Homo sapiens: one gene and its partner. The protein of the gene in region 1 interacts with the protein of each later gene in a pairwise test. Each region holds a gene or a part of one and is shown in the gene's direction. Other genes may lie near its edges.

What was found. The genes of interacting proteins can lie anywhere in the genome.
Region 2: the proteins of STK36 (region 1) and ULK4 interact in a two-hybrid assay, tested with the Homo sapiens proteins (one study listed by IntAct).

The regions. Positions count from the first base shown.
Region 1 is NC_000002.12:218,681,988-218,689,197, forward strand, and holds part of STK36 (serine/threonine-protein kinase 36), read left to right. Parts: intron 1-3,097; coding exon 3,098-3,241; intron 3,242-6,709; coding exon 6,710-6,889; intron 6,890-7,210.
Region 2 is NC_000003.12:41,958,953-41,965,977, reverse strand, and holds the start of ULK4 (serine/threonine-protein kinase ULK4), read left to right. Parts: upstream 1-3,874; 5' UTR 3,875-3,962; intron 3,963-7,025. UniProt on the Homo sapiens protein: May be involved in the remodeling of cytoskeletal components, such as alpha-tubulin, and in this way regulates neurite branching and elongation, as well as cell motility.

The DNA.
Region 1 (7,210 bases):
CACGATCTTGGCTCACTGCAACCTCTGCCTCCTGGGTTCAAGCGATTCTCCTGCCTCAGCCTCCCAAGTAGCTGGAATTACAGGCATGTGCCATCATGCCCAGCTAATTTTGTATTTTGAGTAGAGATGGGGTTTCACCATGTTGGCTAGGCTGGTCTCAAACTCCTGACCTTAGGTGATCTGCCTGCCTCGGCCTCCCAAAGTGCTGGGATTACAAGCTGGAGCCACCACACCCAGCCTATAACAACACTTTTACCCCAAATTCATCAGTTGTAAAACTTTTGTCTCATTTGCTTTACCATCCTCTCTCTCTCTCTCCCCCTATGGACATAGCATCTTTCTGAATCATTTTAGGGTAAGTTGTACACATGCCCCTTTACCCCTAAATACTTTAGCGCATATTTCCTAAAACAAGATCCTTCACTTACACTAACACAGTACAATTATGAAAGTCAGAAATTTAACATTGATATAATACTGTTATAATAGATTAATTAAACTAATCTGTAATCCTTATTCAAATTTTGCTAATTGCTTCAGTAATGTGCGTTATGAAAATTTTTTTTCTGCTCCATGATCCAATCCAGTATCACACCTTGCTTTATTTATTTATTTATTTATTTATTGAGCAGGGTCTTACTCTGTTGCCAGGGTGGAGTGCAATGATGTGATCTCGGCTCACTGTAACCTCCGACTCCTGAGCTCAAGCAATCCTCCTGCCTCAGCCTTCTGAGTAGCTGGGACTACAGGCACCTGCCACCATGCCTGGCTAATTTTTGTGTTTTTTTAGAGAGAAGGTTTCGCCATCTTGTCCAGGTTGGTCTTGAACTCCTGGACTCAAGTGGTCTGCCCGCGTCAGCCTCACAAAGTGCTGGGATTACAGTGAGCCACTGTGCCCAGCCCACACATTGCATTTAGTTGTTATGCCTCCTTAGTCTCCTTTAATCTGGAACAGTTCTTGTCTTTCTTTGTATTTTATGACTGATAGTTTTGAGGTACACGTCAGTTATTTTGTAGAATGTTCCTCAAATTGATTATTTCCTAATGAATAGATTCAGGTTGTATATATTTTTGGTAGGAATACTACATAAGTGATACATCCTCAGTACCTTAATCTTTTTATTTATTTATTTGAGACAGTGTCTTATTCTATCACCTGGACAACAGGGTGGACTATAGTGGTGCAATCATGGCTCACTGCAGCCTTGAACTCATGGGGTAAGCAATTCTTTCATCTCAGCCTCCTGAGTAGCTGAGACTACAGGTGTATGGCACCATGCCCAGCTATTTTTTTTTTTTTTTTTTAAGATGGAGTCTTGCTCTGTTGCCTGGGCTGGAGTGCAGTGGCACGATCTTGGCTCACTGCAACCGCCGCCTCCCAGGTTCAAGCGATTATCCTGCCTCAGCCTTCTGAGTAGCTGGGGTTACAGGTGCCTGTCACCATGCCCAGCTAATTTTTGTATTTTTAGTAGAGACAGGGTTTCACCATGTTGTTCAGGCTGGTCTCGAACTCCTGACCTTGTGATCTGCCCGCCTCGGCCTCTTGAAGTGCTGGGATTACAGGCATGAGCCACTGCACCAGGCCTATTTTTATTTATTTATTTATTATTATTATACTTTAAGTTTTAGGGTACATGTGCACAATGTGCAGGTTAGTTACATATGTATACATGTGCCATGCTGGTGCGCAGCACCCACTAACTCGTCATCTAGCATTAGGTATATCTCCCAGTGCTATCCCTCCCCCTTCCCCCACCCCACAACAGTCCCCAGAGTGTGATGTTCCCCTTCCTGTGTCCATGTGTTCTCATTGTTCAATTCCCACCTATGAGTGAGAATATGTGGTGTTTGGTTTTTTGTTCTTGTGATAGTTTACTGAGAATGATGATTTCCAATTTCATCCACGTCCCTACAAAGGACATGAACTCATCATTTTTTATGGCTGCATAGTATTCCATGGTGTATATGTGCCACTTTTTTTTTTTTTTTTTTAAAGAGACAGAGCCTTACTATATTGCCCAGGCTGGTCTTGAGCTCCTGGCCTCAAGCAGTCCTCCTACCTCGACCTCCCAAAATGCTGGGATTACAGGTATGAGCTAATGTGCCCAGCCTCACGATCTTTTTTTTTTTTTTTTTTTTTTGAGACAGAGTTTCACTCTTGTTGCCCAGGCTGGAGTGCAATGGCACGATCTCAGCTCACCGCCACCTCCACCTCCTGGATTCAAGCGATTATCCTGCCTCTGCCTCCCGAGTAGCTGGGATTACAGGCATCTGCCACCACACCCGGCTAATTTTGTATTTTTAGTAGAGATGGGTGGGGTTTCTCCATGTTGGTCAGGCTGGTCTTGAACTCCCGACCTCAGGTGATCTGCCTGCCTCAGCCTCCCAAAGTGCTGGGATTATAGGCGTGAGCTACTGCGCCTGGCCTTTTTTTTTTTTTTTTTTTTTTTTGAGACAGAGTCTCACTCTGTCACCCAGGCTGGAGTGCAGTGGTGACATCTCGGCTCACTGCAAACTCTGTCTCCCGGGTTCAAACAATTCTCCTGTGTCAGCCTCCTGAGTAGCTGGGATTACAGGCATGTGCCACCACACCCAGCTAATTTTTGTATTTTCATAGAGAGGGGGGTTTCACCACATTGGCCAGGCTGGTCTTGAACTCCTGAGCTCAGGTGATCTGCCAGCCTCGGCCTCCCAAAGTGGTGGGATTACAGGTGTGAGCCACGCACCCGGCATTCACAATCTTTTTAATAACCTCATCGTATTTTCTAATATGGATGGACCCTGGTTTATTATTCCCTTAGTGACTGACTTTATGATCTTTTCCTTTTTAAAATTATTACAAACCATGCTGCAGCGGACGTCTTTCTAGGTATCTCTTTATGCACACATGCCGGTGTTCTCCAAGAGACTCTTCCAGACCCCTCACAGACTGCCAGCTGTACCTTTTTTAGCAGGTGACTGAAGATATACATCTGTGCTAAAGGGGTCACTGGCTCCTTGCAGTTACTTCATGATTCCCCATGGTTTCTACTGGTTGGGATCTACTACCTTAGACTTACACACTACTCCTGACCCCTTTCACTCCCCTCTGCCTCAGGAGCCAGACAGTGACAATGAGTGGCAGCACCTGCTAGAGACCACTGAGCCTGTGCCTATTCAACTGAAGGCTCCTCTCACCTTGCTGTGTAATCCTGACTTCTGCCAGCGCATCCAGAGTCAGCTGCATGAAGCTGGAGGGCAGGTAATGGGGAGAAAGACACTGTGGATGGGATCAAGACTGTTTTCACAGATGGAGCATTGAAATACACTGACTTCAGGAGAAAGAGAAAGTTTGTCCTTTTCCAGTTCTTCAGTCTATCTGCTTAGTTTGAGGAGGTTTACCAACCTCCTTTAGTAACACAGAAAGAGCAGCCCTCAGGTTTCTTTTTCTGAAGGGAAAAATGCCTACTAGAATAGGGATCAAACTTTTTTGATGATAAATATTTTAGGCATTGTGAGCCACCAGGCAAAAATGGAGGATATTATGTTAAGTACTTACATAATGAGGGAAAACACATTTTCACTAATTTTTTATTGATGAAATTAAAAATATAAATGTAACAATTAAATATACAATATTTTGTACTACAGGTACACTAGTGAGAAGAATGAGGTTATTTTGCGGGGGAGAGGAATGACATTTTGCTTAATTAGCATTCAAAGTTAGTGTAAAGTTAGTGTTCCCTCCTACAAAACCTTACTTTGCTCCTCTGAAACACAGTGCTTTTCCTTCCTGGGTACTCGCCAAACTGTGTTGCTTATATCACTTTATTCAGGTATAATTTATGTATAAGATTTACACTTTTTTGATGAATGATAAATGATTTTTAGTAAATTTGCTAATTTAAAAACTGTTAACCATAGTTCAGTTTTAGAACATTTTCATCACCCCAGTAAAATCCCTCATACCCATTTACGGTTTTTTTTTTGAGACGGAATCTCACTCTGTCACCCAGGCTGGAGTGTAGTGGTGTGATCTCGGCTCACTGCAACCTCTGCCCCGCGCAGGTTTAAGCAATTCTCTGCCTCAGCCTCTGGAGTGACTGGGATTACAGGCTCGTGCCACCACGCCCGGTTAATTTTTTTGTATTTTTAGTAGAGATGGTGTTTCACCATCTTAGCCAGGCTGGTCTTGAACTCCTGACCTTGTGATCCGCCCGCCTCAGCCTCCCAAAGTGCTGGGATTACAGGCGTGAACCACCGTGCCCAGCCTTTTTAAAATTTATTTATTTATTTATTTTTAATTTTTGAGATGGGGTCTCACTCTGTCATCTAGGCTGGAGTGTTGTAGCACAATCTTGGGTCACTGCAGCCTCTGCCTCCCTGGTTCAAGGGATTCTCATGTCTCAGCATCTCAAGTAGCTTGGATTACAGGCGTGCACCACCATGCTTAGCTAATTTTTTGTATTTTTTGTAGAGATAGGGTTTTACCATGTTGCCCAGGCTGGTCTGGAACTCCTGGGCTCAAGTGGGCTCAAGTAATCCTCCCACCTTGGCCTCCCAAAGTGCTAGGATTATAGGTATGAGCTACTGCCCCCAGCCCCCATTTACAGTTAATCATTATTCCCCTTTTTATAGCTGGTTAGTATTCCGTTATATGGATATATCACATTTTGTTTATCCACTCACTAGTTGATTAGATATTGATGTATTGGGTTGTTTCCACTTTTTAGCTTTTATGAATAATGCTGCTATGAACATTCACAAGCAAGTCTATGTATGGATAAATGTTTTTATTTCCCTTGGGTAACTACGTAGGAGTAGAATTGCTGGTCATATGGTAAATTTATATTTAACATTTTAAGAAACTGCTGAACTATTTTCCAAAGTGGCTGTACCATTTTACATTCCCACCAGTATTATATGAGGGTCCTTGTTTCTTCACATCCTTGTCAACACTTGTTATTGTCTAACTTTTTTACTATAGCCATTCTAGTAAGTGTGAGATAGTATCTCATTGTTATTTTAATTTACATTCCACTAATGATGAATGTTGAACATCTTTTCATGGCTTATTCACCATTTGTATATCTTCTTTGGTGAAATATCTCAAATCTTCTGCTCAGTTTTTAATTTGGTTGTTTGCGTTATTGAGTTGTAAGACTTCTTTGTATATTGTCAACATAAGACCTTTATCAGATGGGTGATTTGCAAATATTTTCTCCCAGTCTGTGGTTTGTCTTTTCATTCTTTCTCATAAGAGTGTCTTTTGAAGCAAAAAATGTTGAATTTTGATTTAAGTTCAGTTACTGTTTTTTCCCTTTGTGGTTCATACTTTTGATGTTGTGTATAAGAAATCTTTTCCAAATGCAAGGTCTTAAAGATTTTCTCTTTTCCTAAGTTTTATAGTTTTAGCTCTTACATGTAGGTTTCTGATCCATCTTGAGCTAATTTTTGTATATAATGTGAGGAAAGGATCTAAGTTGATCGTTTTTGCATGTGGATATATAATTGTCCTGGCACCATTTGTGGAAAAGAACTCTCCTTTCCTCATTGAATTGGCTTGGCACTTTGCACTTGTCTTTTGGCGCTAACACGTTTTCCTCCTAGTGTTGGATAACTTGCAGTGTGGGGAGGCAGACTGAAAGCTCTGCCTTTAGGGATAAGACTCCCTCTGGTGGAATTCCAGCTGCACTACTCATTAGCTGCGTGATCTTGGACTACTTACTTGACTTATGCAGAAGCTTCAGTTTCTTCATCTATAAAATGGCTAATTCTATTTATTTCACAGGGTTATTGTAAATATTAAATGAGCAGATGCCAACATTTAGAACAGCTAATGGAATATTATAAAATACTTGGTGTAAATGTTCTTCTTTTGAAGAATAACCATTTAAAAATACAATACTGGCCAGGCATGGTGGCTCACGCCTGTAATCCTAGCACTTTGGGAGGCTGAGGTGGGAGGATCACTTGAGGTCAGGAGTTTGAGGCCAGCCTGGCCAACATGGTGAAATCCCATCTCTACTAAAAATACAAAAATTAGCTAGGTGTGGTGGTGGGCACCTGTAATCCCAGCTACTTGGGAGGCTGAGGCAGGAGAATCACTTGAACCCAGGAGGCAGAGAGGTTGCAGTGAGCCAAGATTGCACCATTACACTCCAGCCTGGAGGACAAGAGTGAAACTCTGTCTCGAAAAATAAATAAAGGGCAAAAATAAATAAAAATATAATACTATCCTTAGCATGCAGGCTGTATACAAATAAATGTTAGGCTGGATTTGACCTGTGAGCCATAGTTTGTCAACCCTGATCTAGAGTTGAATAATGTTGTTTTGTCTTTCTGTGGTTAAATAATATTGTTTTATATGCATTGTTTTGAATTTTCAGAAGCATGTGCGGTGCACGTGTTTTTTGTTTTTAAGGTGAAGGGCTGGAGAAGGGAGGGAGCAGATGGGAATGGCACTTAGTCTGACAGAGATCCTGAGGAGAGGCCCCTATCCGTTGGTCACTGGTGTTCTGTGTTAGGTAACCTGACCATCTATTGTCTTCTTCCCTGGTACAGTTCCCCTATTTCCCTGCTTTCCTTCTCTGTGTTTTAGACTTGCAAAGAAAGGAATGCAAGCATGTGGTCTGCTTTCCCAGCTCCTTGGGGATGCTTGGTATGTGTAGTTCTCCTTCTTTTACCTCTGAAAATATCAATCGTTGCCTCTTTCCCTCATGTCACCCAGATCCTGAAAGGCATCTTGGAGGGTGCTTCCCACATCCTGCCTGCATTCCGGGTCCTGAGCAGTCTTCTCTCCAGCTGCAGTGATTCTGTTGCCTTGTATTCCTTCTGCCGGGAGGCAGGGCTTCCTGGGCTGCTGCTGAGTCTACTCAGGCACAGTCAGGAGAGCAACAGCCTCCAGCAGGTAAGCACCAGGCCAGAAGCCTCTGAAGACTTACAGAGGTTCTTTTTCTTGGATTTATCTCATTCAGATTGCCATCTCTCTTTGGTCTGACTGCCTTTTATTTTCTTTCCTCCTCTTTCTAGTTAGTAGACTATTAATTGCAAACTCTAATGCCTTCTGGGGCCAGGCAGATAAGGTCTGCCATGAAGTAGGCTATGCATGTGACTATATGAGTTGTGGGGAATATGATGAACTAGAGTTCACATGCCTCCTCTAAATAGAGTAGAGGCATCCTTTCCTCAGCCTCCAGCCCATTGTTGCCACAGGGAAATATGGGCCTGA
Region 2 (7,025 bases), on another chromosome or scaffold:
ACAGTAGTCCAGGAGGAGACGTTTTCCCTACCAAACCTGTTAAATACACAGAACTGACAATAATGGATGCTGAGACTCTTGAGAAGGCAGGAAGGGTCAGAAGTAAAAGGAGATGTGATTTACCTGAGATCAGAACAGTTTTTCTAGATGGTTGTTTGAAAAGTGTGGTGCTCAACTTGCAACATTGACATCACCTGGTAAGTTGATAGAAATGCAAAATTTTAGGCCCCATTGAGATACAGAATCAGAAGTTTTGTAGGTGGAGCCAGAAATCTATGTTTTAACAAGAGCTCCAGGTGATTCTGATGGTAAAGTTTGCAAACCACTTTTGCATTGAAGGATGCTGAAGAGGGGAGCTGGTTCATTTTCTCACCTCTGGATGATCATAAAGAATCTGTCAGCCGGGCGCGGTGGCTCACACCTGTAATCTCAGCACTTTGGGAGGCCGAGGCGGGCAGATCACCTGAGGTCGGGAGTTCAAGACCAGCCTGACTAACATGGAGAAACCCCTGTCTCTAGAGTGTAGCTAGGTTAGCACTCTAGCCTGCGCAACAAGAGCTAAACTCTGTCTCCAAAAAAAAAGAATCTCTCATTCAAGCACATAGAAACTTCCTTCTTTAGGCAAAGCATTGCATTAAATGCTGCAGAAAAGAAATTTATTTTTTACTTCATACAAAGAGGCATTAAATAATAACAATGCATGTAAAGTTAGCAAAAAATAAAATTTCTTTTTAAATTTCCTTTTTACAGACAGGATTTTGCGCTGTTGCTCGGGCTGGAGTACAGGCTCCAGTGTATCTGGTGGTTGAAACTTGCAAGTGTGGAGCTTTGAAAGCCGTAAGTGATGGTTGACAAAAAGAGTTAAACTCTGTAAAATATTTAAAGAGATTTATTCTGAGCCAAATCTGAGTGACCATGGCTCGAGGCACAGTCTCAAGAGGCCCTAGGAACATATGGCTAATGTCTCACGTGTCCGTGTGAAGAGACCACCAAACAGGCTTCGTGTGAGCAACAAGGCTGTTTATTTCACCTGGGTGCAGGTGGGCTGAGTTTGAAAAGAGAGTCAGCAGCGGGTGGTGGGATTATCGTCAGTTCTTATAGGTTTTGGGATAGGCGGTGGAGTCAGGAACAATGTTTTGCGGGCAGAGGATGGATCTCACAAAGTACATTTTCAAGGGTGGGGAGAATTACAAAGAACCTTCTTAAGGGTGGGGGAGATTACAAAGTAAATTGATCAGGTAGGGTGGGGCAGAAACAAATCACAATGGTGGAATGTCATCAGTTAAGGCTATTTTCACATCTTTTGTGGATCTTCAGTTGCTTCATGCCATCTGGATGTATACGTGCAGGTCACAGGGGATATGATGGCTTAGCTTAGGCTCAGAGGCCTGACAGCTAAGGTGACTGAGCTGCAGCTCGGTTTTACATGTTTTACGGAGAAATAAGACATCAATCAATACATGACATAAGGTATTGGTTGGGTCAGGAAAGGTGGGACAACTCGAAGCTGGAAAGAGCTTCTACATCATAGGGTGGATTTAATAGGTGATTGGTGTTATGCCACGACTACGCCAATTGTCAGGTTCCAGCCCCCAGCTGAGGTCCAAGGGGAGTGGGTGGATGGGCGAATAACTGAAAGAACACAAGGAGGGTTGGGGGCGTGTAGGCAAGTGAAATGTAGTTTTATTCAGCGGCTGTGTCATCAGCAGCTTAATCACACTAGCTCTCTCACACTGTCCACCTTTATCTCGGCTGTCTGTTCTGGCTCTGTGGCTCCTGTTGCCCCCATGCCTGCAGCTGCACACCCTGGCCTGCAAAGCCAGCTCTGTCAGGGTCAGCAGCTTAACTCTCCCTCTGGGCACAAGCTGGTTCCTGGCTCGGCTCCCCTCTGCCCACCTTAAGGGCAACCGCTCTCCCTTAGAGGGGTTAGTAGCATTACTCTGGGCACCAGTGCACGAACCGGGTCGTGTCGTGCTGAACTCAGACCTGGGCACAGTGTCAGCAGGGCAGTTATACCTTCTACAGACAATAGTGGCTCAGATCCAAGTATGAACTTACATAAACGGGTTACATAACAAGTGGAATATGCGCCTGTGTCCTAAACTCGCTGAGCCACTCTGGCCCGGATGTCCACCTTGGCCTATTCCTTGACCAAAGCACATCCATATACCCTACAATTGGCAATTGGTTAAAAGAGTTATTATATAAAGACCTGGAGCCAATAGAAGGCAGTGTCTGGGTTGAGATAAGAGGTTGCAGAGACCAGGGTTCTTGTTCTGCAGATGAAGCCTCTATGTAGCAGGTTTCAGAGAGAATAGATTGTAAATGTTTCTTATCAGACTTAAAACAGGTGTCAGGTTCTCAGTTAATTCTCTCCAGCATCAGGGAAAAGACCTGGAAAGACAAGGGGATTCTTTACAGAATGTAGATTCCCCCCAGAAGAGATAGCTCTGCAAGGCCATTTCAAAATATGTCAAATAAATATATTTGGCCAGGCACGGTGGCTCACACCTGTAATCCCAGCACTTTGGGAGGCCAAGGCGGGTGGATCACCTGAGGTCAGGAGTTCAAGATGAGCTTGGCCAACACAGTGAAACCCTGTCTCTACTAAAAATACAAAAATTAGCTGGTGTGGTGGCACACGCCTGTAATCCCAGCTACTTGGGAGGCTGAGGCAGGAGAATCACTTGAACCCAGGAGGTGGAGGTTGCAGTGAGCCGAGATTGCGCCACTGCCCTCTAGTCTGTGTGATGCAGCGAGACTGTCTCAAAAAAAATATATATATATATACGTATATGAGTATATATGTATACATAAGAGTATATGTGTGTGTGTGTTTGTCTATGTGTGTGTATATATATATCAGGATAAAATACTTCAATGTCTTTTGGGGCCTGCTGCCATGTTGGTATCTTATTGCTGCAAAAAAGTCTGTTTTGTCAGTCTTAAGGTCTCTGTTTAATGTTAACGCTGGTCAGCTGTGCCTGTATTCCAACGGGAGGAGGGTATAATGAGGCCTGTCCCACCCCATCTTCCCATCATTGCCTGAGCTAGTTCTTCAGGTTAACTTTGGCGTGCCTTTGGCCCAGAGGAGGGATCCACTCAGTTGGTAGGGGGGCTTGGAACTTTTATTTTTAGTTTACACAATCAACTTGAGATCAGAGTGTCTCATCTGTTTCCTCCATCTCCAAAAAGGAAGGTAATTCACAGCCTTCTCTTTTCTAAATGGTGAGGACCCCGGGGCCCCTGCTTCTGAGGCGTTGGTTATCCAGACTATGCCACCATGTCTACCTGAGCTCCCAGAAGAAGCCAGAAAGAAAAGAATGGAAGGAAACAGAAGGACAGTGGGAACGGGAAGAGAAGAAATGACGAGGTCTCAGTTCTCCACACTCTAGCCTCAGCACCCACTTAAGATTGAAGAGTAGTCCCTCACGGGCTCCCACTTCGGACTCTGGCCAATAGGAACTGAGACTCTTAACCAATCAGCGCTTTGCGTTTTTCCAGCGTTCTGCGTGCTGCCATGGAGATGGAATGAGCAAATCCAAACATAGAGGGATGGTGGGCCGACCACTATGACTGTTACTCCAGCACTTCCCGCCCCAGTCTCTGGCCTGTGGGCTCGTCCAAAGGCAGGGCGTGATGCCCTTTGGGTGGAGGGAGGGGCCCTCGTGGTCTCTCACTTCCGGGCCCCAGCCAACAGGAACGGAAACTGCACAGCCAGTCGGCTTCCTGAGCTTCTTCCGGCGTTCTGTGTGCTGCCGTGGAAACCGTATGGACGAATCCAAACCTGGAGGGGCGTCGCCTCCGTAAGGCTGGTCGGCTTCTTCCGCGCGTTCCGCTTTGCTTCACTGCTTTCTCCCCCATTCTTGGGCCTGTGGACCTGTCCTGAGGCAGAGGCCGAGATGCGCGCAACCGCGGGAGCAGCCAAGTGGACTGGACTCTTTTCTTGACTTAGCTACCAGGTGCGTGGCAGTGGCGGTTTTAGTAGCTACGAGTCTGAGTTCGTGTCTGCCTAAGCGGTCGCGGAAGAGCGCGCAGGCCTGCCGGGGCGGGTGGGTGGTGGCGCCTGGCCGCCCTCTCTCCTTCTGCCAGTGGACCCCGTACCCCCTGCGCTCCCCTGCTTTGCGCTCGTGTTAAAAAAGCCGCCCGTTTTTATCCGGGCGTTAGTTAAGGGCACACGGGACGCCTCTTCTAGGACCTGGGTGCAGCGGGGAGAGAGAGTGCTTGTGTGTTTCGGCTTGGGAGATGTGCTTTATGGACGCCATCTCTTAACTTCCCAGAGCGGACCGCGTCTTCACCGCCCTGCAGCGCTTCCTAGGCTCCCAGCCGGTCTCGCGGACTGATGCCTACGGACGTAGCGAGGCCGCGAAAGCCGCCGATTCGCCCGCCGCGAGTTGCCTGGGGAGCGGGGGGGGGGGGGGGGGGGGTGAGTGACTACGTAGCGCCCCTGAGTCTGTGATAATTGAGTCTGTGAAGTGCGGCGAGGAGGAGCACCTATGGAGTGCTTAGTGTGGCGCGCGCCATCGGTTACATCTCGGGGTTGATTTGGCTGGCATTTCGCAGACTTGAGCGCATCCCAGTCACCCCAGGGCGTGTAGTAACACAGAAGGCCAGGCCCTACCGCCGTAGTGTATGATTCCGTAAATTTGGGGCAGGGCCGATAACTTTTTCTTTTGTATTAAGTCCCAGGTGATGCTCATGCTTCTGGTGCGGGAGTCATGATTGTGCTGAAAGTGGGCACCTGTGCGCTCTTATCACCTGTTCGCTCTCAGCGTTCCTTGAATGTAGGACCTGCCCCCGACTCTTAAATGCCTCATTTGCACCTGTATGTGATTTGCTCTGCCTTCTGGCTTCTTAGATGCTTCTTAGGTGAACTTGTGAATTAAGAGAGACTTCCTTAGGAGCACTATAGGTTAAGAGACTAAACTGTGGTTTCTGGGAAAGCACACTCGAGTGAGAAAACCATGAAGAAACCTAAGGAAGTGATGACTACGAAAGTCAGGGGGTGGTTAACTTTTGGGGATCAGGAGGGGTGGTGATTGAGACAGGCTCACAGAGGGGCTGCTTGTGTGGCTGGCAAAGTCCTATTTCCTGACTTTGGGTGGTGATTAGAAGGGTGTCCCTCTTTAGTAATTCATTAAACTATGTATTCTGTGGAGTTTTCTGTACTTGTGTTTTATTTTATAATTAAGAGGTTACAGCTTTAAAAATGAATATTAGGAAGTCTGTAATGGGGAACGTGTTTGGACTGAGTCAAAGAATCTTAAAGTCATGGAATTTCAACTATTAATAAGTTATTGAAAGATAACTTAGTGCCAGGCGCGGTGGCTCACACCTGTAATCCTAGCACTTTGGAAGGCCGAGGCAGGCGGATCACTTGAGGCCAGGAGTTCTAGACCAGCCTGGGCAACATAGTGAAACTCCATATCTACCAAAAACACAAAAAATTAACTGGGTGTGGTGGTGTGCCAGAGGCTGAGGTGGCTACTCTGGAGGCTGAGGCACGAGAATCGTTTGAACCCTGGAGGTGGAGGTTGCAGTGAGCCTAGATCTTGCCCCTGCACACCAGCCTGGGCCACTGAGTGAGACCCTGTCCAAAAAAAAAAAAGAAAATCATTTGATCCAATTCTTATTTTACTCTAAGGAAACAGCCTTAGAGAGGAGAAATGCTTGAAAGTAACAAACCACCCTATCTAAGCAGATTTATAACTAATGTGTTTTGTTAATTTCAGACTGAAATTGTCCACATGTGACTTGATGGTCAGATGTGACTAAAGATTAAGGAAATGAATTTGGCCTAAATCAAATTCAAAATTTCAAGATGGGCTGGATGGTGGCTTGCACCTGTAATTCCAGAATTTTGGGAGGCTGAGGCAGGAGGATTGCTTGAGCCCAGGGGTTCAAGACCTAGCCTCCTTTAAAAAAAAAAAAAATCAAGATTTTACTTAATTTTTTCCCTTGTAGCCTAAAACCTTATTTTCAAGAAATCAGTTATACATACTGTATGAAAACTTATTTTATCATCTTATCCTGAGATATCCTAATGTAGACAATTTGTGAACACTTAAGGTTTCTGATTATATTTTTTCTGGCTTAGTAACTTCCCATCTTAACATACTGTCAGTTTAATCTTATTTTGGTTATAATACATACCATATAGCTGGGACTACAGGCATGCACCACCATGCCAGGCTATTTTATTTGTGTAGAGTCGGGATCTCACCATGTTGCCCAGGCTGGTCTTGAACTCTTGGCTTCAGACAATCCTGCCTCCACCTCCGAAAGCGTTGGGATTACAGACATGAGGCACTGTGCTAGGCCAGGATTGGTTCTTTTTAATGAATGGGTTTTAGAACGAAGAGGGATGTAAAAAGGACTTAGGGAAACCGTCATTAAAAGAAAGATACTAACCAGTGCCTTTTTGTTTTTAATTAATTAATTATTATTATTTTTTTTGATATGGAGTCTCTTGTCACCCAGGCTGGAGTGCAGTGGCGCAATCGGCTCACTGCAACCTGTGCCTCCTGGGTTCAAGCCATTCTCTTGCTTCAGCCTCCGGAATAGCTGGGATTACAGGCGCCCGCCACCATGCCTGGCTAATTTTTTTTTTTTTTGAGATGGAATCTTGTTCTGTTCCTCAGGCTGGAGTGCAGTGGCGCGATCTTGGCTCACTGCAGCCTCCGCCTCCCGGGTCCAAGCAATTCTCTGCCTCAGCCTCCCGAGTAGGTGGGACTACAGGCGCGTGCCACCATGCCTGGCTAATTTTTTGTATTTTTAGTAGAGATGGGGTTTCACTGTGTTAGCCAGGATGGTCTTGATCTCCTGACCTCAGGTGATCCACCCTCCTCGGCCCCCCAAAGTGCTGGGATTACAGGCGTAAGCCACTGCACCTGGCCTAATTTTTGTATTTTTAGTAGAGATGGGGTTTCGCCATGTTGGCCAGGCTGGTCTTGAACTCCTGACTTCAGGTGACCTACCTGCCTTGGCCTCCCAAATTGCTGGGATTATAGACGTGAGTCATTGCA